Regions from separate parts of the Homo sapiens genome. Here regions 2 and 3 are each linked to region 1. Evidence: fine-mapped QTL for protein levels in blood plasma. A gene starts in region 1. Each other region holds a variant in brackets. All regions are shown on one strand. Distances are between the middles of the regions.

What was found. PIP is the posterior inclusion probability: the model's chance that the variant is causal. Protein levels are from antibody-based Olink assays in UK Biobank. Linkage for the fine-mapping came from a reference panel and not from the study's own genotypes, which makes the PIPs less certain.
Region 2: its variant is fine-mapped to the plasma level of the SDC1 protein (UK Biobank, PIP above 0.99).
Region 3: its variant is fine-mapped to the plasma level of the SDC1 protein (UK Biobank, PIP above 0.99).

The regions. Positions count from the first base shown.
Region 1 is chr2:20,221,903-20,232,029 of GRCh38, forward strand. SDC1 (syndecan 1) reads right to left here and starts at 3,228. Exons shown (of 5, transcript NM_002997.5): 1 at 2,900-3,228. The coding sequence starts at 2,965. RefSeq lists enhancers at 422-929, 930-1,436, 3,196-3,875, 3,876-4,555 and silencers at 1,595-1,794, 2,205-2,664, 2,685-2,744, 2,785-3,204, 3,265-3,644.
Region 2 is chr2:20,167,330-20,177,558 of GRCh38, forward strand. It overlaps the pseudogene RN7SL140P and the pseudogene RNU6-961P. Among named protein-coding and RNA genes, the nearest start is that of SDC1, 53 kb to the right of the region's middle. RefSeq lists an enhancer at 3,079-3,928. The variant G/A (reference allele first, on the strand shown) is at 4,290.
Region 3 is chr2:20,183,811-20,194,039 of GRCh38, forward strand. No RefSeq gene overlaps it. Among named protein-coding and RNA genes, the nearest start is that of SDC1, 36 kb to the right of the region's middle. RefSeq lists an enhancer at 3,599-4,217. The variant G/C (reference allele first, on the strand shown) is at 5,388.

The sequences.
Region 1 (10,127 bases):
GCTAGTGCCTCCCCCCATACCCTCTCTGCCAGGCTGTGGGAAAATGTCTCTACTAGCCCCCATAATTAGGGCAAAAGGGATTTTATGCCTTTCAAGAAAGAGAAGAGAGAAAGAATGAAAAATAGCAAATAACTATTCCAGAACAAGCCATTTTTCTTACATGGCAGAAACAAAAGACCACAGTAAACACACACACACACACACACACAGAGAGAAAGAGAGAGAGAAACCTTTTTAGACAAACCTGTTTTAGTCTCTTGGGAGTGGTTTTGAGCAACCTCCTCTCCTAGCAGCCTCCCCTCACCCATTCAGTCACTCCTTGCTTCCCTGGTCCCCAGGGGGTTTCTGACCTGCTTCCCACTGGGGCCAGAGTGAACTTTCAGAGAGGGTCAGATCTCTGCCACTTGCAAATACCTTCTCCCATCTTAAAGCAAATCCCAGCTGCCTGATTTCTTTTAGGAAAGGGGTATCAGAGCTTTGGGAAGGCAGTGCATGCCCCCACCTTTAACCTAACATGGACATTCACTGTAAGAGGAAGAGGGCAGAACTGGGAAAGAGAAAACAAACTAATCTTTGTAAGATCAGAAAAAGCAAAAAGAACACCTAAGCTTCAAGCCAGAGTCTGACCCCAAAGCTCAGGTGGGGCTTTCAGGCTCAGCTCAAGCACCTCCTCCAGGAAGCCTTCCCTCCCTGCAGCTCCAGGGAGTCTCCCTCCTTTCCCCTTTTGAGACTCTCCTGCCTCCTGGGCCCTATGTCCAAGTTTCTGGGCAAGAAATAATGCCTCACACTGCAGCATCTGCCCCAGCCCACAGAAAACTCCAGGAAAGGCAGTTCACGGGGAAGCCCAAACTCCACCTGCCTCCCCAGCATTAACGGGTGCGGTGGGATCCCAGGGCTCTGGAATGTCTGCTTTACCCCAGGCAGGCAAGGGAACCAGCAGCCCTCCTAAATCCAGCCGGAAATAGGTGGAGGACCCAACTTCAGCCGCCCCTGCTGAGGCCCCATCATGTGCGAGAATGGGGCAGTGAGGTGATGCCCAGCGGTCCAGGGAGGTAAGGCACCCAGCTCCATTCTCTTCTCCAAACTCGGAGCGAAGACTCCAAGCACAGTCTCAGTTCCACAGAAACCACCACCCTAGAGAGCAGCTTCTTGGACCTGAAAGCCAGGAGTGCATGAGACCCAGCTCGGAAATCATGGCCCTCCCCGTGCTCCCAGATACCCCTCACAGTCCAGCCCATTCACAGTTCAATAGGCACAGGGACCTCTCCTGGACCGGAAAATGTCTGGAAGCACGAGTCACCTGGGAAGCAGGGAGGGCGCTTTACACATCGGTCTCAGAAACGACTGTCCCTACCTCATCTCCCATGAGACAGACTCTGTAAAGAAAAAAAAAACCAAAGCGCTCAATAACTGGCAGCTACTACACGAGGCAACGCTTACGGAGGGTCAGCGCTGCTGAGACTTGTCCAGATGCCACATTAGCAGTGGAGAACCCGAGTGCCCACCCCGCCCCCGCCCCTTCCCTGCCCACGTGCCTCCCTTTGCCAGAGCTGGGGAAGTCGAACTGTCCAGATGTAGTGGCGAGACACCGCCACTTCCGGAAGGGGAAGCGCCCCTGGCTCCGCACCTCCCCTCTGCATCCCTGGGGATGGCCGAGCCGGCCCGCAGGAGGGACCCCGGGACGCCAGCACCGGGCGCGGGGGCTGGGGAGGCGAACTCGGGCGGCAGACTCGGGCACCGGGCGGCCCGCGCTGACACCTGGCTGCGGCCCAGGTCCCAGCCCCCGTCAAGGCCGGCGTTACGGGGCTGTTCCCAGGAAAGGGTTACAGGGGCCGAGAACAAAGCGCCCCCATTGGGGAAGGCGGGCTAGCGGCCGGTGGCCGGGGCGGGAGAGCCACTTTCTGGGGACCCTCAGGCTGCTCTTTGTCGGCCACGTCCCTCTTTAGTGGAGCGTCAGCCCCGCTGAAGGTGGATGCTGCATCCCACCCAAAGGCCTCTTACAGCCCCGAGCTCCACATCTGCCCCTCTTTTCTCCCAGCTGCACTGGGCGGGCCAAGGGACCCGCCTTCCCTCCGCGCGGCTTCAGCACAAAGCCGAGCCGGGGAGCGGGAGGCCATTCCCGGGTCCCCTCGCGTGGAAGGCGCCTGCGCCTCGGCCGTGCCCGGCACGGGAACGCGCCCTCCGGGGCCAGCTCAACTTCAGCAGCCCAGAAGTTGGGCTCCTCCGGGTCTCCAGCGTTCCGAGGCCAACTTCCCGGAACCTCCCGCTGCCGGGCCGGCTCAGCTCACCTCGAGCCGCCCACGGCAAGCCCGAGGGCCCTGCAGACGCTCGCCCGCGCCCCCCACGCAGCCCTGGCCCGGCTCCCCGGGCCAACGCGGCCGCCTCCCGCTCCCGCGCCGGCCGCGCTGCGCCCAAACTTGCCCTGGCGCAAGGGGCGGGGCGCCCGGGCTCGGCGGCGCTGGGGCGCAAGCCCGCGGGTCTGGTTTGAATTAGGGTCTGCAGGGGGGGCGTTGTGGCCGCGGTCACTGCATCCCCCCGGGTCACCGACGGGGGCCCGGCCGCCGCGGTGGCCGGGGCGAGGAGGGTGGGAACGGGCGACCCCGGGCGCCGCTGTGGGCTGGCGGGCTCCGACAGATGTGGAGACGTTTTACATAATTGAGCGCGGGGCCCCGGCCCCCCACCCTCCCCAGCGCGGGACCGGTGCGGCACCCACCGACAGCGGAGGAAATTGGGGCTGGAGCCCTGGTCTCGGGGCTCACCGTCCCGGGACCCGCTGGGCTAGCGCGGGAAGAAGGGAAGTCTTCGCTCCCCCTCCCCCTCCACGTGCACCCGCCGGCATCCGCGGGTGACCAGTCCCGGCTTCCCGCCGCCTCCCCGCCTGGCCGCCGGCCGCACTCACCGGCAGGGCCGGCTGCAGGCTCAGCGCCAGCGCGCACAGCCAGAGCCAGAGCGCCGCGCGCCTCATGCTGCCCGGACCGGCGGCGGGAGAGCGGCAGGCTGCGCGGGTCGCGGCTGCGGGCCGGCTTCGCGGGTTCCGCTGCTCGATGCTCTCTTGGGCGCCTGCCCAGCGCGCCGCTGTCCCAGGCGAGGGCTGCAGGGTCCGCCGGCTGGAGTCCGCTCTCTACTGCCGGATTCCTCTCCGCTCGGCTCGGATTCGGCCCGCACCTCTCCCGCCGAGCTCCGCCTTATAATAAACCCACAGGCCCTTCCTTAGCCGTTGCAAAAACTGGCCCCCCACCCCCAGCTCCGCCAGGTCTCCCGGCCAGCCCCAGTCCACACCCCCCAGGACCCCGCCCCCCAGCCACCCCTCCCGGCCCCTTCGGAACGCCCCACCCCCGGCCCGCTCCTAAGGTTCTTGCCTGCTTGGCTCCCGCTCCTCCGGTGGCCGAACGTCGCTTTCGGGAGCTGTGGTCCCCGCAAGCCGCGGTTCCCGGCCTTTCAGCTCGGCTGCTCCCTGGGTGGTGGGGCCGAGGCGCACCCCCTTCTGCCCGGGCCCGGAGTGCGGAGGCGCAGCCCGGGAGAGGGGCTGAAGGGGGGCAGGCAGTCCTCGGGCGCGAGTGTGCAGCGCCCTCTGGGCGTGGACGCGGAGCGCGCTCCAGGTGCGCAGGACTCCTAGCTCTCTTGGGGAACGCTTTCTGGGGCAGGGCGGGGACCCGGGGGCGATGGGGCCTTCAACCGACGGGCAAACACACACAGACACACCCCGGCTGTCCTCCAGCTGCGATGCGGCTCGCTGCGCCCCGCCGGCCCAGATTCTCCCGTACGCTCGCGTTCTTCCTGCACTCCACAAAGTGCTGGAGACTTGGGGCCTTAGTTTAAACAGCTGCACCCGCACGGAAGGGCTGCAAGAAAAAGGGGGACGGGGGCGGAGTTCGCAGCGTTTTTCTGTGGAAGACAACGCCCTCTCTCTTCATCTGAGCTAAAAGGAAAAATAAGTAACTTCTTTGTTCCCCGGTGACCTCGGGCACGCGGATCTGAGGAGCACCGTGCAGTTGCTGCTCCTTCGAGATCCCCTGCGAGGCCCTGGGCCTCAGTTCAAAAAGCTGTGGAAGGCCTGCGGGTGTAGGGGAAACGGCCGAGAGAGCAAAGGGGAAGAACCGGACGGGCCCTGCCCACATCTGGCAGGCAGGAGAGATGGTGCCAAACGACCTTCGCACCTGGGCCCTGAGACCAAAGATGGCGTCGTCCTCCCCTGTCTTCCCTAGGCGGAAGGCAAGAACTTGGGTCGGCCTGAGCTGGGGACCAAGAAAATATCGGGAAGTGTCCAGTGTTCCTCTTTAAAAGAATTAAACCTTCCTGGGCCACGCAGGGACTGACCGTGGGACCCTGGACTCTCCTCCACCTTCCACCGTGGAGCAGGCTCTGGAGCCGAGCAGCCTCCTGCGTCCCCATCTCATCCCCCCACTCCTCCTCACAGCACTAAAAGATGATGGCCTGCTTGTACCCCTGCTCCTGAGCACCTGTTTGACCTCAAAGAGCTCTCGCTTTTGGGGTGTCCGTCTCCCCAAGTCTGTCTAGGGGGCAGGAAGACCTTCATCAGGGTTCTTGGGGGCCGATGTGGGCTCGCTGAGTGCCTGAGTGATGGATGGTCTCACAGCACGGCACCACGGAGGTCCAGCCGAGCTCGAGGAGTCCCTGTGGATTAAAAATGCCCTTTTCGAAGGTTCTACCTCTACCAGAGGGTGGCTCCACAGATCCCTTCAACCCAGTATGGTGGAAAAATAGGAATTTTGGAATCTTACCTTTCTCTACTGCTCACAACAGAGGAAACTGGGGTCAGGGAGGATTTGATGGAGTCTTTTCATTTTTTAAAAGTCACTCACGGCCAAGCGCGATGGCTCACGCCTGTAACCCCAGCACTTTGGGAGGCCGAGGCGGGCAGATCACCTGAGGTCAGGAGTTCTCGACCAGCCTGGCTAACACGGTGAATCCCCATCTCTACTAAAAATACAAAAATTAGCCGGATATGGTGGCAGGTGCCTATAATCCCAGCTACTCGGGAGGCTGAGGCAGGGAGAATCGCCTCGACCTCTCGGGTTCAAACAATTCTCCCGCCTCAGCCTCCTAAATAGCTGGGATTACAGTCGCACGCCACCACAGGCCGGCTAATTTTTTATTTATTTATTTATTTTGTATTTTTAGTAGAGACAAGGTTTCACCATATTGGTCAGGCTGGTCTTGAACTCCCAACCTCAGGTGATACACCCGTCTCGGCCTCCCAAAGCGCTGGGATTACAGGCGTGAGCCACCGTGCCTGGCCCTTATACTTGTCTTCTTGAGTGCATGTGTGAGGCTTTCTCTAGAAGTAGAGCTCTGGATTATAGGTATAAACATCTTCAACTTTCTCAGGAATTGTTGTAAGCAATTGCTCTAAGCAAATTGCTCTCCAAAGGGCTTATAGTAATTTACACTCCCAACAGCAGTTATGAGCATTTCCATTTTTCTACATCCTCCTATGACTTGGTGTTGGGCCTTTTATATTTTGCCAGCTGATGCAAGTAAAATTATATCTTATTGCTGTTTGAGTCTGACCATCCTTCCCATTAGGAAATGTTTTGCTGAAGCCTTTAGTTGCCGACTGGTTGGGCAGACACTTCTGTTTACTTATCACATCTGTTTTCCTCTTTCTCAGTAAGAGATTCCTTAAATTTCAATTGGGCTTATGGCTATTTAAAATAAAGATTACCTTTCCCTGCCTCTCTTACAGCCACGCGTAGCCACATGATTAGGGTCTTGCCAGTGGCACATGAGCAGAAGTGGTACATGCACTTTCAGAAAGGTGTCAAGCATGCTCTCCTTCCCTTTTCTGTTTTCTCCTGGGCGGAATACAGATCTGATGGCTGCCTCTGAAGCAGCCTTCTTGGACCATGAAGTGAACATGGGAACAGAGGCCATCCACAGCAGAGGAACAAGTTAAAGGAAGCATGGGTCCCTGCCCCATGGAGTATAGCGTCATCCCTGGACTGCCCACGCAGACTTATACATGATGGGAAAATGTCTCTTTTTGTTTGTTTAGGACACTGTTTCTCTGAATTTTCTCTCACTTGCCAGCAATTCTAATCCTAAAAATACACTGATGAATTCATTCTTCTGTATAAGACTAAGTGAATCATCTCAGAAGAGTATGGGGAGGACAACTGGAAAAAGGAAGAAGAGGTGCCTCAGGAGGACGGTGAGAGGAATGGCTTTGAAGATGCTGCTACAAAGAGCCTCTAGGAGGCAGCCCAGCCAGTTTCCCAGCCCCAGACTGTATGTTAAGTTTGGGGACAATTCCTGCCCAAAAAAGAGGTGTAGGCTAGAAGGAGCCATGTTGGAGAGGTTTTTCAGAGAACTGTCTGAAGGCCACACTGGCGTATGTCTCCTCTAATGCACCGTAGGATTGGCTCTCACTGGGTCCCAGTGCAGGGGCATGGCCCTGAGTGCCATCGGGGGACTCCAGAGGAAGCCCCTCACCCACCACGGCTGCGGAGCTGTCCTTGGGTCTGTTGTGAGACATGAAGACCTAGAAGCAGTGGAAAGTTTTGGTTTCGTCTAAGGAACGAATATGTTCATCCTTTTTTTTTTTTTTTTGAGACGGACTCTCGCTGTGTCCCCCAGGCTGGAGAGCAATGGCATGATCTCGGCTCACTGCAACCTCCGCCTCCTGGCTTCAAGTGACTCTCCTGCCTCAGCCTCTCAAGTAGCTGGGATTACAGGCACCCGCCACGATGCCTGGCTAACTTCTGTATTTTTAGTAGAGATGGGTTTCACCATGTTGGTCAGGCTGGTCCCGAACTCCTGACCTCAGGAGATCCACCCACCTCGGCCTCCAAAAGTGCTGGGATTACAGGCGTGAGCCACTGTGCCTGGCCATATGTTCATTCTTAGATATTGAGAAATATGTAACCAAGTGTGTCTGCACTTTCGTGCTTTGGCAGCTCCAAATCATCTGGGGATTCAGTGTGCAGCAAGTGGATTGGACTTTATGTCCTGCTTCTCTGCTCTCAACCTCAAACCTGCCTTGCCCCTGTGCTGACTGTCCCTTTCTAACTTATAATTTCCCTTGCCTTCTAAGTTGCCTCTAATATTTGATAGCAGGAAAGAGAGAGAATAATACACCTTTTGTAGATATCATTGGAATTTACACATCCAAATCAGAGTATCTACTTCCCCAAAGCGATCCCCGTAAGGGACCACTTTTATCACCTCATGGTGCCCATCATCCTAGGGAGGCCTAGGAACCCTTTGTCTATGGGAATAACTTTTTTGTTTTGGAGGAGGAGAGTGGAGTATAGTTCATTTATTTGATAAATATGTCTAGAGATGGAGCATTACCCAGTTCCAGGAAGCATGATTCAGTGTCTTCCATGAAAATGGTATCCTGGCTGGGTGCGGTGGCTCATGCATATAATCCCAGCACTTTGGGAAGCCAAAGTGGATGGATCACTTGAGGCCAGGAGTTCGAGACCAGCCTGGCTAACATGGTGAAACCCCATCTCTACTAAAAGTACAATAATTAGCCTGGTGTGGTGGCACATGTCCATAATCCCAGCTACTCGGGAGGCTGAGGCACAAGAATCCCTTGAACCTGGGAGACAGAGGTTGCAGTTAGCCAAGATTGTGCTACTGCACTCGAGAGAAAGAGAGAAAGAGACAGAGAGAGAAAGAAAGAAGAAAGGAAGGAAGGAAGGAAGGGAAGGAAAGAGAGAACGAGGGAAGGAAGGAAGAAAGGAAGGAAAAGAGAGAAAGGAAAAAGGAAGAGAAAGAAAAAAGGAAGGAAAGGAAGGAAAGAAAGAAAAAAGAAGGAAGGGAGGGAGACAGAGAAAGAAAGAAAGAAAAAGAAAGAAGAGAAGGGAGGGAGAGAGAGAGAGAAAAAGAAGGAAAAGAAAGAAAAAAAGGGAGGGAGGGATAGAGAGAGAAAGAAAGAAAAAGAAAGAAAAAAAGAAAGAAAAAAGGAAGAAGGAGGGAAGGAAGAAAGACAAAGAGAAAAAGAGAGGGAAGGAAGGGAGGGAGGGTGGGTCCTGTGGAATCGTGCTCTAGAGATTCACAGTCCATAGCATCGGGTGTGAATGGTGCCTGTGGAGTTGTGCAATGCGGCAGTGCTATGCTGCAGAGACCCTACTGGGAGCCAGGCCCAGGGCTGAGTGCCGGAGATACCAAAGTGAAAACATAAGGTTTTCATTTTCTGTGAGTTCAGTCTTTGGGGAAAAACTGAACTAAACAATCATTATAAAACAAAGAAGTGCGTGCAATACTAACCTGTTCATCAGCAGCAGTAAGGAAATGATGGATTCCGGACGCAGGGATAAAGTTCCCAAAGGTTTCAATGATGAGGAAGGTTGAGGGTGGGTGGGAAGCCATTAGAACCTGTCCGTGGATCAAGAAACAGGATTTGGGCAGTGTATTTGATTCCTGTGGCTGCTGTAATAAATTTCTACAAATTTGGTGGCTTAAAATAGCACCCACTTAGGCTGGGTGAGGTGGCTCATACCTGTAATCCCAGCACTTTGGGATGCCAAGGTGGGTGGATTTCTTGAGCTCAGGAGTTTGAGACCAGCCTGGGCAATATAGTGAGCCCTCACCTCTGCAAAAAAAACAAAACAAAAAAATTAGCTGGGTGTGGTGGCACGCGCCTGTAGTCCCAGCTACTTGGGAGGCTAAGGTGAAAGGATTGCTTGAGCCTGGGAGGTTAAGGCCGCAGTGAGCCAAGATCATGCCACTGCACTCCAGCCTGGGCAACAAAGCAAGACCCTATCTCTAAATAAATAAATAAATAAATAAACACTCATTCTTTTACGGTTCTGGAAGTCAGAAGTCCAAAATCAGTTTCACTGGGCTGAAATCAAGGTGTGGGCAGGTTGGTGCTCCCTCTCAAGGCTCTAGGGAGAATCCATCTCTTGCCCCTTTCAGCCTCTGGTGGCTGCTGGTATTCATTGGCTTGTGGTCCCATCACTCCAGTCATCAAAGCTGGCAGCTTCAAAGCTCTCTCTGCTCCATCTTCACATTGCCTTCTTCTCTGTGTATAGTGAAATCTCCCTCTGGCTGTCTCTTGTAAGAATACAGGACTGCATGCAAGGCCCACTGGAATAATTCCCAATAATCGCCCCTATCTCAAAATTCTTAATCACATCTGCACATCTGCAAAGACCCACCACCACCACCTTGTATTGGTTGTTGTTCTATAAGTTAACATTCACAGGCTCCAGGGGCTGGGATATAGATATCTTTTAAGGGTAATTATTCAGCCTACCGCAGGCAGATAGAGCAGGGAAAGGACATTCCAAACAGGAAACCCAGCAAAGAGCAGGCAAAGAAGCAAGACAGAGCTTCAGGATGTTCAGGAACTGGAAGGAGTCTGAGGTGGGCTGGACTGGCCGGGGCACAGGACCTCTGGCAAGGGCTGGATCAGAGGGAGAGAGCCTGAGCAGTGTGTGCCAGTAACGGGCCGTGCCTAGGCTGGAGGAGCCAGTGGTTTGCATTTTGAAAAGATCCTCTGGCCACTGTGCGAAGGGCAGGCTGCAGGGAGGGAGACTGTGGGCTGGGACACCCTATGCAGGGGCCGTGAAGGTACAATGTGGGGAGCCAGGATTGAATAATATGGAGGAGGTGGGATGCGATGAGGCTTGGAGAAGGATGAAGGAGAGGAACAGTGCAATGTGGAAAATCCTTGGTGAGGGTCCATTTCCACCTGGTTTACGTAAACAGCTAGCGTCAGAGGGGCCGAATCAGTGTGTAAAGTGGCTGCCTAGGCTGGGGCAGCACTGGGTGCTGAAGTCCTTTGGTAGATCACCCCGGGGCTCGTGACTCAGTTCTAGGCTGCCTCAAGGATGAGCCTTTGTTGCCTTTGTTGGAAGCTTGGACAGGAAGCTCTCCAGCAGGGAGGAGTGCCAACACCAGCCACACCCTCCCAGGTGCAGCTAGGCCCAGTCACCCTGAGCAATTTCCTGGAGTGAGGCCACTCGCCACTGGCTCACACTAGCCCCTGCCCTGCAGGGCATCATCAAGGATCTGGAGTCTGAGCAGCACCAGGCTCTCTGTGACTCAGCCCCTGTGGGGAAGGGGAGCCCGTGCTGGTGCTCTTCGGGCTGGAGCAGGGAAGTAGCTCCCCCTGTCCCACCTCACCTGCTTTGCTAGGGACAGACTTTTTT
Region 2 (10,229 bases), 55 kb before region 1:
GAGGTCCCCTGTGGCTCCTCTCACCCCCTTGTCCCCAGATGTCCCCACAGGGACCCATTCTTGAGATGGGGAGCAAGCCTTCCCCTCAGGCCTCCCTCTGTATCCAGGCATGGCCACTCAGGCCTTCTGCTCCTCTTCTTCAGGCCCTGCCTTGGCTGTTATGTCCTATCCATCCTCTCTCTGACTGTGCCCAGAGAACGAGGGAGTCTGACTTCAGATTTTACAGACAGAAGATATCCCAGGAATGTGTCCATCACATCGCCAAGCCAGCCCCTGTCAGTACAAGGCCAGCGTGGAATGAAGCTGAGTCTCTCTCTCTTCACCTGGAGTCCAGTGCTCATCCATGGCCATCGCTGTGTGCCAAGGATGTAGGGGTTGGCCAGGCCCAGAAAAGGGGATGTGGGCAGTGTGGGAAGAAAGAAAAAAAGCCCTCCAAATACCGGAAGATGGGCACAGTGAGCTCCACGAGCCAGCCACAGCTCACCTTGCCATCTTTACCTTTCCCATCTTGGTGGGTAGGGTGGGGGTGCCCTGAGCACTGCACAGGACGGAGGGTGCTTCAGGGCCACCGCAGCTGTGACCAGCATTTGGCTGAGAGATAAACCCTCCCCAGCCAAGAATGCCACCCCTGGAACCTCCCCTCCCTAAAAGCTTAGTGGCAATTCTAGCAACTCGGGGGTCAGGCAGTGCTGGACTGGGGCGAACTAACAAAGCCTCCTCCGTGGGAGCCATTTCCCCTAATACCCCCTTGAACAAAGGCCTGAGATAGCTGTCCGCCGGTCCACACACCTGTGGAACACCACCCTCCTTGCTCTCATGTTTTCTCTCGTACTCAAAGGCCCCAGAGAGAAGCCCCATTCAGGCAGCTCAGCCTGCACCTCTGCTGCAGGGCGCTGGGCCACACCTGCCGCCCCATGATGTGGTCCTTTCTCCAGAGCACGGGGCTTCAGGGTCCTCCCTGCATGGCATGGACAGTTCTGAGGGATGGCTGTGACACGCAGCACGAGGCCACCCTGCTTCCCATCGGGGAGCTCTGACATCAGGGGCCAAGACATCTTTTTGAGATGAGTGGGGGGCACGGAAGAGACGTCTGGATGTTAGAGTCATGGTCTCCAAAGTGGGGACTGACCCAGCTGCTGGGCCTCCCTCCAGCAGCCCAGCCCTGGGTGGACAGGCTGCTTTTATGATGATAGTTAACTTTTTATAGATATTCCTCCTGCAGCAAGTTAAATTGCATCTGCTCGGGCAGACATCCAGGCCAAGGGCAGGCAGATGGAGCGGCCGGGCCCCGAGGCTCTGGCGGGCAGGTCTTCCTGCTGTAAAGCTCTGTGTCTGATAGGAAATTCAGGCTGGAGTGTGGGCACAGGGCAGCTTGGGTTGCTTCCTGAGGGTCTAAGAGCCCCAGACGAGTCGTCCTTTTCTTCTGCAGCCTCTTCATGTGGCTCTGAGTTCTGCACCTGGGCAAACTTCCTTGTGGGAGAAGTCATGAGTGGGTAGAACGTGCAGTCAGCGCTGTAGGACCAGCCAGGGAGGGGCCTCAGCCAGTCAGCTGTGATGGGGCAGGGGATCGGAGCCTCGCCCGGTTGGTGGGCAGGGATCTGGCCCTGAGGAGCAGGGCCCCGGGAGTGGGACCCTCATCCCACAGGACCGGCAGCACTGGGCAAGTTATTGCTACAGGGATTTGGCCATGGCATATGGGGTACAAACCAAAACAGGGACCACCCCCAAACTCAGCCTGAGTCGACAGCACTGCCCTCTAGGCCTCCACTCCCCACAGGGAGAAGGGCTCCCACACTGGTCCCTCTGACGCCTGCAGAGTCACTTTCGATGGGGCCACTTCGCCTCCCAGCCAGCCCGCCCTTGGTCCAGGGCATTAGCGACTCGGCGAGATGCACTGAGTTTGACTTTCAACACACATTTATTGGACACCTAACTCCCTATAGGCTGTGTGTTAAGTTCTGGGGCTTCAAACTGTGCTGAATACAGCCCCTTCCCTGGAGGAGTGCCTGGACTGTGAGGGAGTGAGAGCAGTAAATAGTCGGGGTGATTGCGCGAGGATAACAGAATGCACAGAGCGAGGCTGCGGTCTGAAGAGAGGCCAGGCTGCAGGGCCTGCTGGGACTGGGACCACTGCTATCCCAGCCCAGCCTCGGCCCACTGCTCCCAGTTCCTCCTCACGCTCCCCACCTCTTCCTGGGACGCCTGTCATGACCAATAGCCAACAGGAAAAAGAACACCTCCCTATCTGGTCTTCCCCCACAGGGACTGGTTCTTGTCCAGGGACACACGCCCTCTCCAGGAAACCTGTGGACCCACTGGGCTGGGGCAAATAACCCTCTTCTCCAGAAAGCTCCTAGCAACTTAGATGGCTAAGCAGAAGTCCCATCAGGTCCCAGTTACCCCATCACCTGGTCGATTTGCAGGTCCCATACATTCAGTGTTGCCGAGTACCTGGCATGTGAAAGGTATTACATCAAGTGATGCTTACAGCTTCCCTTGAGGGTAGGCAGGGTGCCCAGATATTACCTAACACTGCGTAACAAACCACCCCGACACTTAGGAGTTTAAAACAAAAACAGCAGTATTTATTTTGCTCATGAATATGCAAAGTGGGCAGGGCTGGGCGGGCAGTTGTTGCTGCTCCACTTGGCTTCAGCTGGGGCAGCTTGGAGGCTGGAGGCTATTATCATCCGAAGCTGCTCATTCACTCACATGCCTGCGCCTGGGGTGGGAAGACCCGATGGCAGGGGGCAGGCACAGCTGGGGTGCCTCACACTCCTCTGTCTATCTCCTTGCAGCCACGCCTCCCTCCAGCATGGCGGTGTCAGGGTAGCTGGACCTCTTATGTGGGCTCAGGCCTCATGGGGTGTGCGTCCTGAGCAAGAGCAAGCCAGGCCGAAGCTGCATTCCCTTTTCTAACCTAGACCCTAGAGTCATGCAGCACCATTTCCGCCTCTATTAATCAGCAGTGTCTCATCAAACTTGGCCCATACTGAAGGAAGGACAATTGAATTCCATCTTTTCATGGGAAGCGTGTCAAAGGATATGTGAACACGATTGTGAGCCTGTTTTTAAATCACCACTTAAGACAAGGTTGTTGCCTTATTTTAGAGAGCAAAAAATAAAGTGGCTTGTCGAGTTCATGCAGCAATTTAGAACTGATGAGAATTCTAAGCCACATCTCCCAGCTCCAAGGCCAAGGCCTCCTTCTAGTCACCATTTAGTGCAATGATAAAGGGATCAGAGTCCCTCGGAGCATCTGATGAAATCCATAGACAATTTTCCCAGAAAAAAAAATGCACGTGCATTAAATCTTGGGTCTGTATGTGTGTGGGGGAGCAGAACAGTATAACCAAAAATATAAGGCTGGGCTAACCAATTGTGAGCTCAGCCTGCCCCTGGCGCAGCCACCACACTTAGGGCAGCCAGTGCGCGGCGCGACTCAGCCTCGGGTTTGGAGAAGGGCTTGCCGTGGGCAGTGCCCTGGGGACTTGCTGTGGAAGTCCCATGCTGTGCTGTGTCAGCCAGCACCTCCTGGCTTTATCATTGCACCATACATACCATGTGCAGGAAAACAAGTGTTTCCTTCCTGCTCCTGACATGGGCGGACTCCAGGGTTCTGGATGGAGAGACCCAGAATCCAGACTTCCCTACAGCAGCTCCCAGCCTTCTCACAGCCCCAGGGGCAGCTGGACAGGTACCCAGGGCAGCCACACAACAGAACAAGAGGCCTCGTGGGGCCTGTTAGTCTCTGCATTTGACACAGCGAGGGGTGGCATAGTGGTCCCTGCCCTCTTTTCCTTCTGCTCACACCCGAAGGAGGAACAGGTGCATCGGAACTGCAGGAGGAAGAGAGTTTGGAAAAGTCCCTGGCGTGACTGTCATAGATAATTCCCACCTTATCCTTGCCCTCGAGAACCACACATGTAGTAGATGACATAGAGGCATTTAACAATTTCATATAATTTAATTGTTTTATTAAACAATTGTGTTTATCAATTGGCTCAGAAAATCCCTCGAAAATAGGACAAGCTGTTCTCATGAGTGTGTACAAGTTGTCTCTAGCACACCGCTGACTCAAACCCAGGACCTCTGACACCAAATGTAACCCCCACTCTACACAGCCAAAGGTACTGGAGCTCCACAGGCAGTAAGCAGTGGGGCTGAGATTTAAAGCTAGTCTGACCCCAAAGCCAAGTGTTAATCATTATCATTTGGATAATGATCTCCATTGGAGGGCCTGATGGGAGAAGAGGAGAAACAAGGACGCTGACCCAGAATGCCTGTGG[G/A]CTTTACTTCCCTGATCCCAGGCCACTGGGGCAGATTGAGGGGGGATGGTCGGGGGGTGTCATTAAACCTCAGGCATAGTCAAGCATTGTTCCCTCACTGCAGAGGGGCAGACCTGCCCAGGGTCACACACAAAGCATGGGGCTATGCTCAGGCTAGAGCCTGGATCTCCTCAGTCACCCTCAGACCTAGGCATACCCTCAGCCCTGGTGACCTGTGCCCAGTGGGGACCAACTAACAAAAACCACCACTGCAGACAGGTGTGAGCTGTGAGGAAGTCCCGCAAGACAGAAAGCCTGAAGCCTGCTGAGCCCAGCCTGGGCCAGACCCTCTTGGGGGTGCTGCAGTTTTAGAGAGGAGGGCACCAACGAATCAAACAAGAGCCCTGTTCACAGGCCGCACTGTCTAACACAGGTGCTACTAGCCGCATTTGATAATTTATATTTAAATTCATTAAAATTAAGTACAATGTAAAATTCAGTTCCTTAGTCATAATAGCCACATTTCAAGCGCTCAATAGCCACCTTTGGTTAAAGGCTATTGTGTCAGATAGTGCAGATAAAGAACATTTTCATCAATGCAGAAAAATCTGCCGGACAGCACTGGCCCTAGAGGAAAGTCAGATAAAATGAAAAACAACAATTTCGCCCGCCGGAATGGAGCCAGCTGCCGAGAAGTGTTTCTTGGAGGAGGAAGGTCTTGAGGTTCCAACTCACAGGAGCCCTGCCCACTCCCAGGTCTGGGCCCTCCCTCTTCTCCCCTCCAACCCCAGCCCCAGGCCTGAGCACGCTCTGATTTCTTTCCGGCTGCTTGTGTGTGGCTGTCCTCCACCACCCGGGGTGGAGAATGGGGCCTGTGGGGACCTGCAGAGAGTTGCCCAGGAGCCAGCAGAAGTGGGAGCAGCTGAACCTTCTCAGGCTGCCAGGGCCGTGGCCCACTTACCCGCATCCCTAAGCCTCAGAAAAGGAGGGCTCTGGGGAGCTGCTGGGGCTTGGAAAGTCACAGTGATGGTGCAGGCAGGGGCGGGCGCTGTGTGTTTGTCTCTCGGCATCTTTGATGTGCCTCGGAGTCTTTCATGTCGGAGGCTGTCCTCTGCCAAGGGCCCCATGTGCTGTTTGCCCTTTTCCTTTTATTCCTTTTTTTATTCATTTCATTAAATTGGTTCTGTAGAGGGCAAAAGAAGAGCCCAGCAGACAAGAAATGCTCTCAGGTTATAGGGGAAGAGAAGTGGGGGCGAGAGCTCACTTCTGGCTGGGCGGGTGCAACTGAAAGCAAAGCACTGGCTCATCCACCCACACTTCAAGGCTTCAGCTGCTCACACACTAAGTAAGACCTCTTAGAATCTTTATAGAACCCATGCCTACTTCTTGTGGATGAAGATAAAATCCTTATGTGATCTTAATGAAATCCATGTAGAAGCTTCATAGAATCCTCTTGGATGCCACATAAAAATCCTCACAGAATTCACCATATTGCTCATAGAAGCCTAAATCCCCACTGCCATACGCACAACACACACGCATGACATACACTGCACTCCAGTGGAAATAGCAAATTATCTTGAACCCCATCTCCTTTCCTCAGAGAACAGCCACTTGACAGATCTATTCTGTAGGTGGAGGGACTGGGAACATTGCCCAGGGTGAGGTTGCAATGCAACCTTTTGTGGCCTGACCTGGGCAGGCCTCTGTGAAGGCCCCTTACTCTGCAAACCAGGTCCCTTGGGAAGAGGAGAAGAATTTGCAAAAGGATCCCAGGGCTTCTGGGAAGAGAGGAGAAGCCAACTCCTGTATGAAAATTCATCATGGTTGCCCTGGGTGCTCGATCTGCTGGGACGGAAGCCCCGTGATGCAGCAGGAATTGTTGTTGGTGTTAATGTGTCCCAGCACCTACTCCTGTGCCCGGCACACATGGTAGATCCTCAATAAGCAAATGAATGAAGGTGTGCTAGCAGGAAAGGATCCCCAGGGCCCTAACGAGCACCCACCATAGGACAGGGCAAGCAGCAGGCCACCACGAAGCTGCACCAGGTACTGGGCATTGTTATGGGCTGGGTGGGGACCCAGGCAAACGAGACCTCTCTGCTGAGTGGATGGATGGCGGCCTGGCTAATGCAGGGAGTAAAGGGGTTCTGACAGCAGGCGGGTGAGGTCTGTCTGGCAGGCATCCTGGTGGTTGATGACCAGGAACTGCATGGCCAGTTGGCCCCGGGCATGCAGGCTGAGACAGCTCCAAGGATTATATCCTTGCAGGGCCTGGAAAAGTTTTCTAGTTATTTGTTAGCTTCATGTCAAGCAGAATGGCTTTCTTTCATTCTTCAGCTGTACTCGGCCAGAAGTCCCCAAATTCAACCTTCAGGAGCTTTGCAGGGACTTAGAGACAGGAGTCACTGAGCAAACCTGACTGTGGAGCTCAGATTATAAAGAGGAAAGAAATTCTGCTTCTTCCAGGCACAGAAGGCAGTTGATCCTTAGCGGGAGCCCTGGGCTCCAAGAAGCCCCTGGGGAAGCAGTGGAGCTGACACTCATCTAACAGGCCGAGCTCTGTGTGTCTGTCGTCTGTCTGTGCAGGGATGATGGCACCCACACTCCCAGCAGCTCTCTCTGCACACCATGGTGGAGCCCCAGCTCTGTGCCCTGCCCTGGGCATGGCTGAGAATAGACAGGTGCCCTCCGCATTTGGGAATTAGCAGTTTTAGTCTCTCAAGAGCAAAGTACGCCCCGGATACATGTTTCAAAAAAGAAAGGTAAGAAGGAAGAGACCCCTTTCCCCTGCAAAAAGAAATCAGGCCAGGTTGAGCCACTTCTAGCCCAGAACTGTTTTCATGGCAAACCCTAACATCCTACTTCTGCCAACATTCAAATTCAGGTAACTTAGAGGGACAGCTAAAATCCAAATGAACAAAAAAGCCATATCCAGGTTGCCCACCAGTGCCTCCAGCTTGCACAGGGCCATGCCCCATGCAGCAACATCTCTGAGCATCAGAGAGTGGTGGCAGTCACCAGATTCCTTGGGTGATGCAGCTACCAGCTGGAACCACATCAGGAGGATATTGGAGGAGAAGACAGGAGCAAGTGGTGGGCACACCACAGAGGGCCTTGAGACTTGGGCGGAGTCGAGACTTTGTATTTAGGTGCTGGGAGCCTTTAGAGGCTTTGAGCAGGGGAATGACTTTTCAGACACATGCATTAGAAAGGGTTATATTTAAGGAAAACACATGCTCCATATGCCTGGCACAGTCCTGGTTTGCCTGGACAGTTCCAACTTATGCCTGCTTTTCCTAGTAAACTGATTGCCCATTACACTCTCAAGAGTATCCTGGTTTTACCTACTGGATATTTTATGATATTAAAGAATTATTTTTAATTTTTAAAGTATAATAATATTATAGTTACATTTAAAAAAAAAAAGAATTCTGGGCCAGGCACGATGGCTTATGCCTGTAATCCCGGCACTTTGGGAGGCCAAGGCGTGTGGATCACATGGGGCCAGGAGTTCGAGACCAGCCTGGCCAACATGGCAAAACCCCGTCTCCACTAAAAAATACAAAAATTAGCCAGGCAAGGTGGCACATGCCTGTAATCCCAGCTACTCGGGAGGCTGAGGCACAAGAATTGCTTGAATCCAGGAGGCAGAGGTTGCAGTGAGCCTAAATCATGCTACTGCACTCCAGCCTGGGGGGACAGAGCGAGACTGTCTCAAAAAACAAACAAACAAAAAAAGAGTTCTGTCGGGCATGATAGTGCATGCCTGTATTCTCAGCTACTCTGGAGGCTGAGGCAGGAGGATCACTTGGCCCCAGGAATTCTGGGCTGTAGCGCGTTATGCCAATTGGGTGTACACACTAAGTTTGGCATCAATATGGCGACCTCTTGGGAGCAGGGGACCACCAGTTTGCCTAAAAAGGGGGAACCAACCCAGGTTGGAAACGGAGCCGGTCAGAACTCTTGTGCCAATCAGTAGTGGGATTGCGCCTGCTCTGGGTACATTGCCCAGGCTGGATCCCACTGCTCTCACTGTGTTGCCCAGGCTGGAGTGCAGTGGAATTCAGGCTTCACTCCTTTCAGTGGAGCCACTGCACTCCAGCCTGGGCAACATAGTGAGACCTCATCTAAAAAAAAAAAACAAAAAACAGTTCTTATCTTTTAAAGATAGATAGATTGATTGATAGATAGATCAATCGATCTAGTGCTCACTCTGGCAGCACATATACTAAAATTGGAATGATACAGAGATTAGCATGGCCCCTGCACAAAGGATCACATGCAAATTTGTGAAGCATTCCATATTTTATGATGAATGTTTGAGAGATGAATATGTCAATTACCCTGATTTGATCAGTACACATTATATGCCTCTCAACATCACTATGTACCCCATAAACATGTACAATTACTATGTGCCAACTAAAAAATCTAAAAAATGAAGACATACGCTTAGATATTTATAGATGAATATTGTCTAGAATTTGCTTCAAACCAATCTAGCAAGGGGAAGTGGTGGCCGAATGTGAGTGGGAGTAGAGACGAAATAAAATTGGTTGAGTTGACAATTATGGAGTTTTAGTGGTGGATACATGAGGTGGTGGTGTGTTGATGATACTAGTCTCCCTATGTTTGTGTTTAGTTAACATTTTCTGATATGTAAGTTTAAGAAGAAAGTGTCCCAGAGTGGACAATAAATATGGTCACTCTAGTTCAATGGTTCTCAACCTGGAGAGATTTTGTCCCCAGGGGACAGTTGGCAAGGTATGGTGGCCTTTTGGTCATCACAACTTGGTGGCGGAGGGGGGGATATGCTACTATTACCTATTGGATAAATGCCAAGTATTGGTTTTTATTGCTAAAGGCTGCAATGCTCAGATTGCCCCCCACCCCAACAAAGAATTCTCTGGCTCAAAATGTCAATAGCACCAAGGGTTACACCCCAGGTTAGTGTAATGTCTGTGACTTACTTTAAAGCTCCATTGTATGAACAGAAGAGATAGTGTCTCTATGTGTGAGCTAATTGTAATGTATGCTCTAGGGTTGATGAGTTAACACTTAAAGTAACTCACACCCTAGAAGTGGCTAGCAAAGGCTTCAAATATAGTTATTTAAATCTGCTCCCCAAAATTCATTAACTAGCATAAACAATATCCAGGTAATTTGTTGTTGGTGAAGTGAGTGATGTTCAAGAACTATATTCAGCTGGAAAGATGGTTTAGGCACCTATGTCTCTGCTTGAACAAGACAGAAGAATCCAGCAAACCTGGGTGCCTGACAAGCAGGGACTGGTGCTCTGGGTCTATTCCCATTTCATTCTGAGTCCCCTCTTGGCCTTGACGACTCTGTCTCCTGGCCCAGCCAGAAGCTCGGCTGGTCCCGCTGACAGAACATCGCCATATCTTTGAGCTACTGGACTTCCCATGTGAGTGCTTATCAGCAAGCCTAGAGGTAGAGAAAGGTGATGCCCCAAGTTTAGTGGAGGGGCCAAATGACTATTTTTGTGACTATTTGCTAATAAAAGTATGTCGTTGTGGCAGAATATGGTCTGAAATTTACTTTCATTGTAACATATCTCCTTGTGGCAAGGGTGTGGGCCTGAAGACCCTTTCCCATCTTATCTTTGGGGTTTAGGAGACACTAATGTTTACCCTAAGAACTTGATCATCATTGAACAGCCAAGTTGGCTGAGATCAGGAAGATGATAACGGTAGTGTGTGTGTAGAGAACAAACTGAAGATGAGATTAGAACCTTTGCCTTCTCCATGATCTGTGTATCTTTCTCATGTCTTCCAGGAACACCACATACCTCCCTAACACCACCACCATGTATCATTGAATAGCTAGACTGGCTGAGATAGAAAAAATAATACTGGAGGTGTGTGTAGAGGATAGATGGGAGAGGAGATTACAACTTTTTCACTCCTTTTAGGATCTCTCTAATATCTTCCATACACC
Region 3 (10,229 bases), 38 kb before region 1:
TTCTCCCAGACAAGCCATGTCAGGAATGGCCTGGGAGCCATGGAGAGGGGTCAGTGAATAGATGGCTGCTGGCCTTGTCCTTCCCCTTCGGATGCAGGAACAAGGCTCTCAGATGCATGAACTCAGCCTAGAGTTCCTGGGTCTCCTGCTGCACCCACAGGAGAGGTCTGGGAGGACTCCATCCCTGGAGGTGCCAGCAGTTAAAGAAAGCCAGAGCTGCCAGCCAAAAAACACCTTTGCCCATCAGCCAGGAAAGCTGAACAGGCTGGAGTGCTTCCATAGGGGAGGCACTGGGCTTAGATCTTCCTTTAGCCATCCATTCCTTGGGGCTTTCAGGGGGCAGGAGGTCAGATCTATGCTTTCCTCGGAGGTGGGCCCTGGTGCTGGGGCGGGACCACAGGTGGCAGAGGGTGGGGGCTTAACTCCTCAGGCCTCACTGCTCATTCCTAGTTGGACTGACTTCTGATTACATTGTTGTTTCAGAAACAAGCACTCGATGGCATATTTCTCAATTGAGTCACTGCTCAGTTTGCCTTCTCCCAGGAAAGCAAACACTCTCTGGCTTCACCTCGGGCCATGGCTGTCATTGACCTTACTTACCTTGAAGGGCTCAGCACTGGGTTCCCAAGGCCCTTTTTAAGATCCAATTTCCCTGGTGCTTTGAGGAGGGTGGGGGACATCAGAAGACCCTCTTGCTGGGAACATCCACTTCCCGATGCCTCCTCCTTTGACGTCGTGAGCCACAGGCCACCAAGCAGGTTCTGCGGCAGCAACTCAGAAGAGCCCTCTGGAGTAGGAGAGCCTGGATCCCGGTGCCCAAGGTGGGCACAGCCTGCAAGCAGCTCTGCTTGGAGAAGTCCCGCTTCCTAGGGCTCATTCCGACTGTGCACATGACACTTTCGGGAGTAGGTCAAGAGCCCCAGGCGTCATTTGAACAGGAAGTTCTCGGGTCACATCAAATGTTCCATGTTGCCAACCCTCCATGTAACCCCTTTTCAGGAAGTCATCGGTCTCACTGGCAGGGTGGGGGAGGGCCTGTCATGAGTCCCGTCTCCAGTGTCCCTCTGTTCAGTGCATTTGGCGTAACCCCCAGCTGTATGCACTGGGCCCCCAGGGCTGCCTCCCCCTACGTCCCCCACAGCAGCCCAGCATGGGGAGAAAACATCCTAAAATCACCAGGGGCTCCAGGGAAAAGCCGAGAGGGGGCACGTGGCTGGTATGAGAGCCAGGAATGCCCATGTGTTCAGGATGGCGGAGGCAATGAGGAAAGAATGGCCCGATCTTCTCTCTGTTCCCTGCCTGTCAGTGTCATTCCCACTGGGTTCTAAATCCCCCTAGCATGTTCACAGGTAGCTCGCTGCACCCAGAGACCCCACCAGGCAGATAAACTTCTTTGTCCCACAGACAGAATTCCTCGACCTAGTCTTGCCTTCTTCCCCCTGCTGTCGTCCTCATCCCACTTCCAGCTGTGCCTGAAGAGAATCTGAGGGTCAGACTGGAGGGCGGGGAAGGAGAGGCCGAGCTGCCCCATTCACAGCGTTCAGGACTGTCTCTGCCCCAGGTTCCCTGACTCCTGGAAGTTTCTGGAGTCCTAGACAGGTCCTCTTGGCACTTTAGGAACCAGCTCAGGGCCTGCCTCTTCCTGGAAGCCCTTCCTGTGCGTGCTGATGGTCTTGGAATCAAAGCGCAGCTGCTGAGGAAGTAACTGGGAAAAGCAAAGGCCAGAACTGCAGGGTTGAGGAGGAGGAGACAGTGAGGAGAAGCCCACAGTTCATCTCCGGGGCTCCTCCAGGTGGCTGGCGGAGCGGCTGAGTGGCCCGAGGACTTCCTTTCCCAGGAGGCTGTGCCACAGACTTGGAGCTGTGGGGTGGGGTGGCGGGTAAGAGGGCAGGCTCTCTCCTGGGCAGCACAAAGGAAGCGTCCAGGGGGCCCAAGACAGCTGTCTCACTGTGCGGTCTGAGCACCCCCAGCCCGGGCATGTGAGCAGAGCTGACTAACTCTTGCAGGAAGTGGCCTCAAGCTGGGAGGGAATGGTTGGAAGGCCGACTGGGAAGCGGGGCTCAGAGGGTGCTCCCCAGCCTGGCCCCTGACTCATGAGAGCACACTGTGCCCTTTGAGGGTGGCCTGCTTTAGCCATCTCTGCGGGTGCTGCAGGGGAACAGGGAAATGAGGAACCAGCATCTGCCCACAGCCTCCCTTCTCCCACAGAGGCAGGCTCCAGGCCTCAGCTCCCACCCTTCCACCAACTCACCTCCCCGCCTCACCTGGTTTTCCTATTTTTTTTGTTCTCCAGGCTTTTCCCATGGGAAAATCCCACCCACCATTCCAGGCCAGCCAGAAAGCCTCTCCCTGACACCTGACCAAGTGTTCCCTGCTGGCTCACAGGTAGCCAAGCCCCAGAGGTCTGATATGTGACTTCCCGGCAGGATGCTGTGATCTCCAAGGGCAGGGTCCCTGGAGGGAGCCGGGGCTGTACAATGTTGGCCCTCAGCAGGGTCTCCAGGCAGGACTGCTTCCTCAGGCCAGTCCATGGTTCCTCCACCCTGGCTCCCACTCCCCATCCCCCCTGGCCTCAGGGAGCTGACAAGGCCAGAGGCCCCTGAATTCCTGCCCGAGGGCTCACCCCTGCCCTCGGTTTCACAGACCACCTTTGTGTAGGTCACTGTTGCTGAGCTCTTTCTAGCCCAGCACAAACCTGGGGCCTGGTCTTAGTGACTGACCCACCGGAGAGCTCCCAGTAACTCCCAGTAACTTCTCTGCCAGTCATCGGCTGCTGCTCCTGTCCCTTTGAGGAACTAACGACTGTTCTGTGAGTCAGTAACTAGGGGCAGAGGGAGGGGTGACAGACTCATTGCAGATATCAGGTGATCACTGCAGATATCATGTGATCGCTGCGGCCTTGGAGCCAGAGGCGTCCCTGTTTCTGCTTCCCCAAGAGGACATTCTCCTCCCATGGGGAAGGCCCCCACTCACTATACATTTGCGGCATCTAACCTAGATGGGCTCGAGAAAGCCACTCCGCACAGCAGAAAGAGCACTGGCTGGGAGCAAGTGAGTCTGGGCTCCCCACGGCTGGCAAGAGACTCCCCTTCTCTGAACCTCAACTTCAAGGGGGTGGCCCTCAGAAACCCTAAGAATGCTCACAGTTTTGTGACCTCTTGAAGTCCATGTACATGAAGCAGCTGCGGGCTCAGCCACATCCTGAAGGATCCCATGAGGATGAGTCCTCGTTAGCATCTGTCTGCCCTGGCTCCTAGAAGAACCTGTGATGCTGTGATGAAGCTTTGAAGTCAGGCAGTCCTGGGTTCAAGTACCGGCTCTGCCTCTTACCAGTACATTTTGCACCTTTCTGAACTTGATTTCCAGATGAGGAGATCTGAGGCCCCAGGAGGGAAGGAAAGCACCCAAGATACCAGGCGGGACCCTGGGCCTGCTGGCCTGCAGCTCTGCACTCCTTCTCCAGAGGGCTTGCCCTAGAAGGAGCCAGGGTGCTGGGAAGGCTGTTCCACTTTCAAGGGCTGAAATGAAGGTGGTTGTGTCTCACAGCCTGGCTGGCAAGGCTAGTTCCTCCACCCTGGAGCATCTGTAGATACACCACAGACACAGTGAGGGGAGCAGACAGGCTGGGACCACCTGGCCCTGGAGGGAAGCCCTGGGAAGGCTGGCTAGGCTGCCTCCTGGGCTGCCTCCTGGGGCTGCAGCCGGTCCTGTGCCTTTCATCTGCAGATACCCGGCCTCCCTCCCCACATGGTGCCCAGAAGGCCTGTGGGAGCTTCCCCTGCTGAAAGCTGCTGTCAGCAGGGGGCCACACCTCCCGTAGCCCTTGAAGTGTGAATATTTCTGCTTTCATAGCACACTCACCCCAGGCCCCAGTCCCTCACATCCCTTTAAGAGATGTCCATTACCTGAAGGATGGGGAATGGAGCGGCCCATGGGTGGAGGAAGGGCAGACAGGGTGTGGAAGCAATAGTTGTGTTTGTACAAATGGAGCCCTCCCCGCCAGCCACTAGAGGACGAGCTCGAGGGTACAGGTGTGTCTGTGCAGATTGGCCACTGCACCTATGCGGTGTCTGCTTGAAGCAGTGTCCTCTTTTCTAATTTCAGTAAAAGCCATGCCCACTCACCAAGCCAGGTGCCTGTCCAGAGGGGATCTTCCCCAAGGGAGCGCTGTGTCTAACATGCACAGAGGTGCTCCCTGTGCCCCTGCCTGCCCTTTGACTGTGCCTGGGGAGAATTTGGGTGGGGAGGAGGGCTCGGAAGGTGCACAACAGGTGGGAACTGAGTTCACAAATAAGCTTCTCCCCAGAACAGAACATCCTTTTTCTAAATCCCAACCCAATTGTTTGGTGACCACTAGCACTTCCAGCCAGGAACCTGAGTCCGCTGCCAGACAGCACAGTGCCCAGGAGCCCCATGACTACCTCCAGGCCAGCCCTGAGCCATCTTGAGAAGCCAGAGAGCAATGCTGCCTGGATGAGGCAGGTCCTGCCTCTTCAGTGCCTCCCTCCAGGGAAGGGTGGGGCAGAGGTCCTGGAGCCCAGCCCCCTCCCACAGCCACCCCAACTCTCCAGGCTTCAAAGGCCCACAGGTCATTTCTGGCCCGGAGGCCAGCCCGGACCAGGCCAAGCCCCAGTGGGCTGTGAATCCACCAAGTCTCTTTTTTGGGATCTCACATGCTCCATCTGCAATATGTCTTGGGCAGGAAGGATGAAGGCTGAGTTCCACCACTCCAGTGGGTGGATCTCAGCCTCCACCCTTCCTGTATTCTTATAATCAACACCCCCCTCACTACAATCCTGTATGTGTGTATGTACTTGCACATGCACACGTACACACACACACACACACACACACGATTCTGCGGGGAAGACGTGGGAGACCGAGGACCTAGCCTAGTCGTGACTCTGATGCACTGTGACCTGGCCTGGAAGGTTCCATAGAGTAAGCATCAGTACATGAGGCAGGCGCCGTGGCTCAGGGATCCCTATGGCCCCTGTGCGGTGCTTCTATGGCTTCCTTAGCCCCTCTTTTTTCCGCTCCGCCTTCTCCCAGGGCCAGGCGCAGGGAGCTGGGTGAAACAAGAGTTCATGAATGAACAAATGAATGGATGGAGTGGAGTCCCTCTCCACCCTCACTTCCGATCCCCTAATCCCCTTCCCATCCCCATCTCTAGGCCTGGCTCGGGGGCAGAGCCCCAGGTGTTTTTCATTAAGGGTTTTACTGGGATTCTCAGGCTCTAGCTGAGGAAGGCTGAAAGAGCCACCTAATCCTCTGCCCCACCCCCAGGCTGAGCCCGACACAGTGGGAGTCAGGTTACACAGTGGGAGGCAGGGGCCTATCCTCTCCCACTACCCAGACCCTTCTTGGGCAGCCTCTGGCCGTCTCCA[G/C]GAGGTCACCTAGGGCCCAGCTCGTCTCCAAGCCCATTCCCCTCCACCTGTTCTTTATACTGCAACAGTCAGGACATCCTTCTAAGGAACAAAGCTAATTATCCCATGCCCTTACTTTAGAATCCACCCAGGCTGCCTCCTTCCTTTTTTTTTTTTTTTTAACAACTGGCTCTGATTTGTGGCACTTGCCAATGTCCATGGTACAAATATTTCCATCATGGCCAATTTCAAACTACCTTGTGAGGTCACTGAACTCATGAGCACAGTCAGCTCTCAAAAGCCAGTAGAGCCGGCTCCCTCACCATCAGCCACAACCCTGTGCCCCTGACCTAGAAAACCAGCCCTCCTTTACTGGCTCCAGTTGTCCCTCCAGCCTCACTTCTCACTGCTTTTCCACCCCCAATACAGATACTGCACACTGGGGTGGGGGGATCTTGTGGGTCCCTGGGTGCACCTGGCACTTTCCAAGAACACTTCTCTCCTCCTCTTTTGCCGGGCCAGCTCGTTTGACAAGACCTCATTCACATGCCTCCTCCTCCAGGCAGTCTTCTCTAAGTCCTCAAGCTGGATGGGGTGTCCTTCATCTGTTTCTACAGCACTGCCCTTGGACATCTGTATTGTTTAATAATGCATGTGTGTCCTTGCCACAAAACCGTGGGCTCTTCAAAGGCCAGGGCTGTGCTCCTGATATCTCTGGGTCCCCAGGCCCTGACCCAGAGGAGGCCTCAGTAACTGTGTTGAAGGAGTGAGACGCACGTAGGGACGTGCTCAGGGCACAGGGCTCCAAGGGAAGAGCCACTTCGGAGGGCTGGAGCTATTCTCTTGGGCTTCCCCAGCAAAGGCCAGCGCCGCCTATGTAGCCAGCTTCCTGGGAGACAGAGGGCACTGCCCATGCTCCTCCCACCATGGGAGAAGGGAATTGCTCCCCAACTTCTGGATCTGACATATTCCAAGTGACATCCCCCCACCTGCCCACTGGCTCATAGGGACACGGAGCTGCCTGGGGCTGGGTAGAAATGAGCTGCCATCTGTCCCCTGGTTGTTTGTCTTCTCATGACCATGGTTCCCTGCAGGATACATCATTAGTAACTGTGGTGCCAGCACCCAGGCGTGTCAGGGAGGCCACCCTTTCCCATGCCTGGGAACCGCTTCGGGGCTTGCTGGGGCAGCTCCAGCCTGGAAGAGCCTCTCCCACGCCTGTCCAGGTGTCCTCTGGGACAGAATGGATGAACAGGAAGCAACCGTGGCACAGGAGCGGCACAGACCTGGGTCTGCACGTCTGCTTGGCCACTCAGGAGCTGCATGAAGAATCAGTTTGGATCTCAATTTCCTCATTTGCGAAAAGAGGGTGGGGATTCCAGCCTGTCAGGGATTTTGCGACCATCAGAGTCATAGCCACTATTCATGCAATGCTTGCAAAGTGCCCAAACCAAAATGCTGAAGAGTTTACTCCCATTACTTTATTTAATGCCCCTAGGAGATGAGTTCATTTCACAGATGACAGAGCTGAGGTTCTAAGGAGTTTATGGTCACACAGCCAGTAAAGTGGGGTCTAACCCCAAAGCCCCTGCTCCTGCCACTATATTACTCTGTGTCCCTGAAATCGGAGGGTAGGCATGGATAGAGCCTGGCACATTCTAGGCATATTGGAAATGGTAGTCCTTATTCATAATTAACCAGAATCTTGGTGCCTGACATTTAGTGGCACGCTGCGTTTTCTTAAATCTCTTTCCAAGTCTCATCTGTGCCTGAAGGTGGGCACCGGCCCTCCTGCTTTCCCTATAAGGAAATGGAGGGGTAAGGAGATGCAACAGTTTCACGCAGTCCCTCAGCCAGGGCGGGCAGAGACTGCTGAGCGCCAGCTCTGGGCTCCCGGCCTGGCCTCTGGCTCCTGGGAGAAATTCCCCTTGTCTGGGGTGCAGGCAAGGAGGGAGTTGAACAGACAGGGCTGGGAAGAAGGGCTGCCTGTCAGGCTCGGACGCATAGTGTGTGAGTAGCAAGGCCAGCCCCCTCAAGCTGTCTCCACTTCAGTCTCCACCAGGGGCCACAAAATCATATCCAGCTAGTCCCGAAGATCCAGGCCTGCCGCCTTGAGCAAACCCTTATCCTCTCCAGACCTGTTTCCTCGCCTGTGAAACAGAATAACTCCTGCAGCACCACACAGCTCGAGTTTGTGTGAGAATACGATGAGGGAAGGATGGTGAAGACCCCTGAGCACTGTGGGTGTGAGCGCTCTCTGGGGAGGGGCCGGCCCTGGCTGGTCAGCCTTGTGTGGCACTGTACTGGAGAGGCACATCTGAGGGACAGCTAAGCTCCCCCTGGCGGGCAGGGATTGTGCCCCATTTCATGCACAAAGCATGCTTAAGTTCCCCCTGCGAGAAGCCCTGCTGTGTGTCTGGATTCTTAGGCCTGAAAGGCCTTACCTTTCACATCAAGCGACCAGTCTTTTCTAATGAGTTCAAGTGGTAGCACATCTGATAGGGCAAAACAGCCTCATTTACAAAGAGAAAAATAAATAAAAATGTTATATAGCCTTGAGAATAAGGCCAGACAGTCAGCCCAAGGTCCCTGGAGCAACACATAGAGAAAAAGAGTTGGTAAAAGTCTTTCTTCTTCTGTGGACTCTGTCCGGGCAGCCATGAGCTGGAACTCAGCCCAGCCCTCGTGCCACGGGATATTTTCCACCCTCAGAAGTAGCTGGGCTGGACCCAGAGGGGAGGCCAGGCTGCTCCTGCACTGGGGACCCAGGGGCCCAGTGTGGACCCTCTTCCTTGGCCGTCAGGCTGCAGGGAGCACCTATCAGGAGGATGGGGCTGGAGTCTGCATCCTTGAGGCCCCCCGGCCTGGTTCTCACCAGACCTGGTCACCCTGGCCTGGCAGAATCCTGGGAAGTACGAGAAGTCATCTCATCTGGGGCCACATCTGATGGGTGAGGGGAAGCTGAGGATCAGAAGGAGGCAGCCCTGGTTAACGGATGTCACCCTGGGGCTCCACACCGTCTCAGTCTGTGGCCCTGTCACTGGTCCAACAACAACATCTATCAGGTGCTGAGAGGTGGCAGTAGCCCATGTGCGGCCATGTCATACCTCACCCAGGCTTGCAACAGACACCCTGTGCACTAGTCACGAGGCTGGAAAATGGCAGGACCAGGATTTTGAGCCCAGACATCTGGCTACAGAGTTTTTCTCTGGACCACCATGCCCTCCCACCTCCCCCATGAGTTCTGAAGGGGGACCATGTCTCCTGCTCCCCAATGCCCACTTTCCCTTTAAGGGCTAACACGGGGGTTAAAAGCCCCACAGAGGGAAGCTGTTCGCCCTTAGAGAAGGTATCCCAGCTGATGGCCCAGGCTCTGTCCTCGAAAGGGCTCTGCAGATTTGGGATCGAAGATGCTGCCCTGGACTGGGCTCAGGGCCTCTCGCCTGTAATCCCTATTTGGGAGGCTATTTGGGAGGCTAAGTCAGGATGATTGCTTGAGGCCAGGAGTTTGAGGCCAGCCTGGGCAACATAGACCCTGTCTCTAATTTAAAGAAGAAAGATGCTGCGCCGGAAAGGTCTTTCTGAGGTCCAGATTGCCCACAGGGGGCTCTGAGGCAGCCCAGGGGAACCCCAGCAGGCTTGCCCTGAGGCTCTGAGGGCAGCCAGCCCATCTGCTGCCTCCTGGGTCTGCAGGTCTCAGGACTTTTCAGCCTTAAATCTAGTCCAGACCTAAACTGTCCACGTGGCTGTGCAGGCTTTGCTGAGGTCAAGGAGCAAGCTGGGGGCTGAAATCCTGCTGTCCAGGTGCAAGGCTCACAGGCCTGGGGGACAGGGTGACTTTCTCCTACTGGCCAGAGGTGCTGTCTGCTAACTGAGCTGCACCCCACCCGAATGGGGATTTGCAGAGGCACCATGTGGACTGGGGCTAGGCCTGCCCAAGAAAAGGCCAGACAGTCAGCCCAAGGTCCCTGGAGCTAGTGTCCTCCTGCCCTCTGGCCCTGGGCCTGTTCACCTCTGCAGGTTCTCCAAGGTTACTTCGCAGCCTCAGGCAAACAGACCATGCTTTCTGGATTCTAAATCAAGATTCATAGGTGGACAAAGGAAGTGTTTCGATTTATGAATCTAGAGATAAGGAAATGCTCACAGTTGAAGAGCACTTGCATTTTTCTAGTTTTGAGTGGTTACAAAGTCATCATTTCCACACCACGGAACACTACTCAGCAATGAAAAGGAACACACTCCTGAAGCACACAGCTTGGATGGAGCTCAGATGCAGTCTCCTAAACGAAAGAAGCCAGACTCAAAAGGCTTCCTACTGTATGATTCCACTCATAGGACATCTGGAAAAGGCAACACTTACAGGGACAGAAAACCAATGAGTGGCTGCCAGGAGCCAGGGGTGGGGAAGGAGTTGACTACAAAGGGTGCAGGGAAGTTTTGGGGATGAGTAAACTGTTCCAGATCCTAACTGTAGTGGTGGTTATACAATTGCATGCATTTGAAAAAAGACTGTATAACAATAAGGGCAAATTTTACTGTGTGTAAAATATACCTTAGTTTTTTTTTTTTTAAGAAAGGAAAAAATTACATTTTCTTTTTAACATTACATGCCCCCTTTTTTCCACTCATTTTGGCTGTAACATAAATTTGAATTATTAAAATATTTCAGACCGGGCGCAGTGGCTCACACCTGTAATCCCAGCACTTCGGGAGGCCGAGGCAGGCGCATCACCTAAGATCAGGAGTTTGAGACCAGCCTAGCCAACATGGTAAAACCCCATCTCTACTAAAAATACAAAAAAATTAGCTGGGCATGGTGGTGCATGCCTGTAATCCCAGCTACTACTCGGGAGGCTGAGGCAG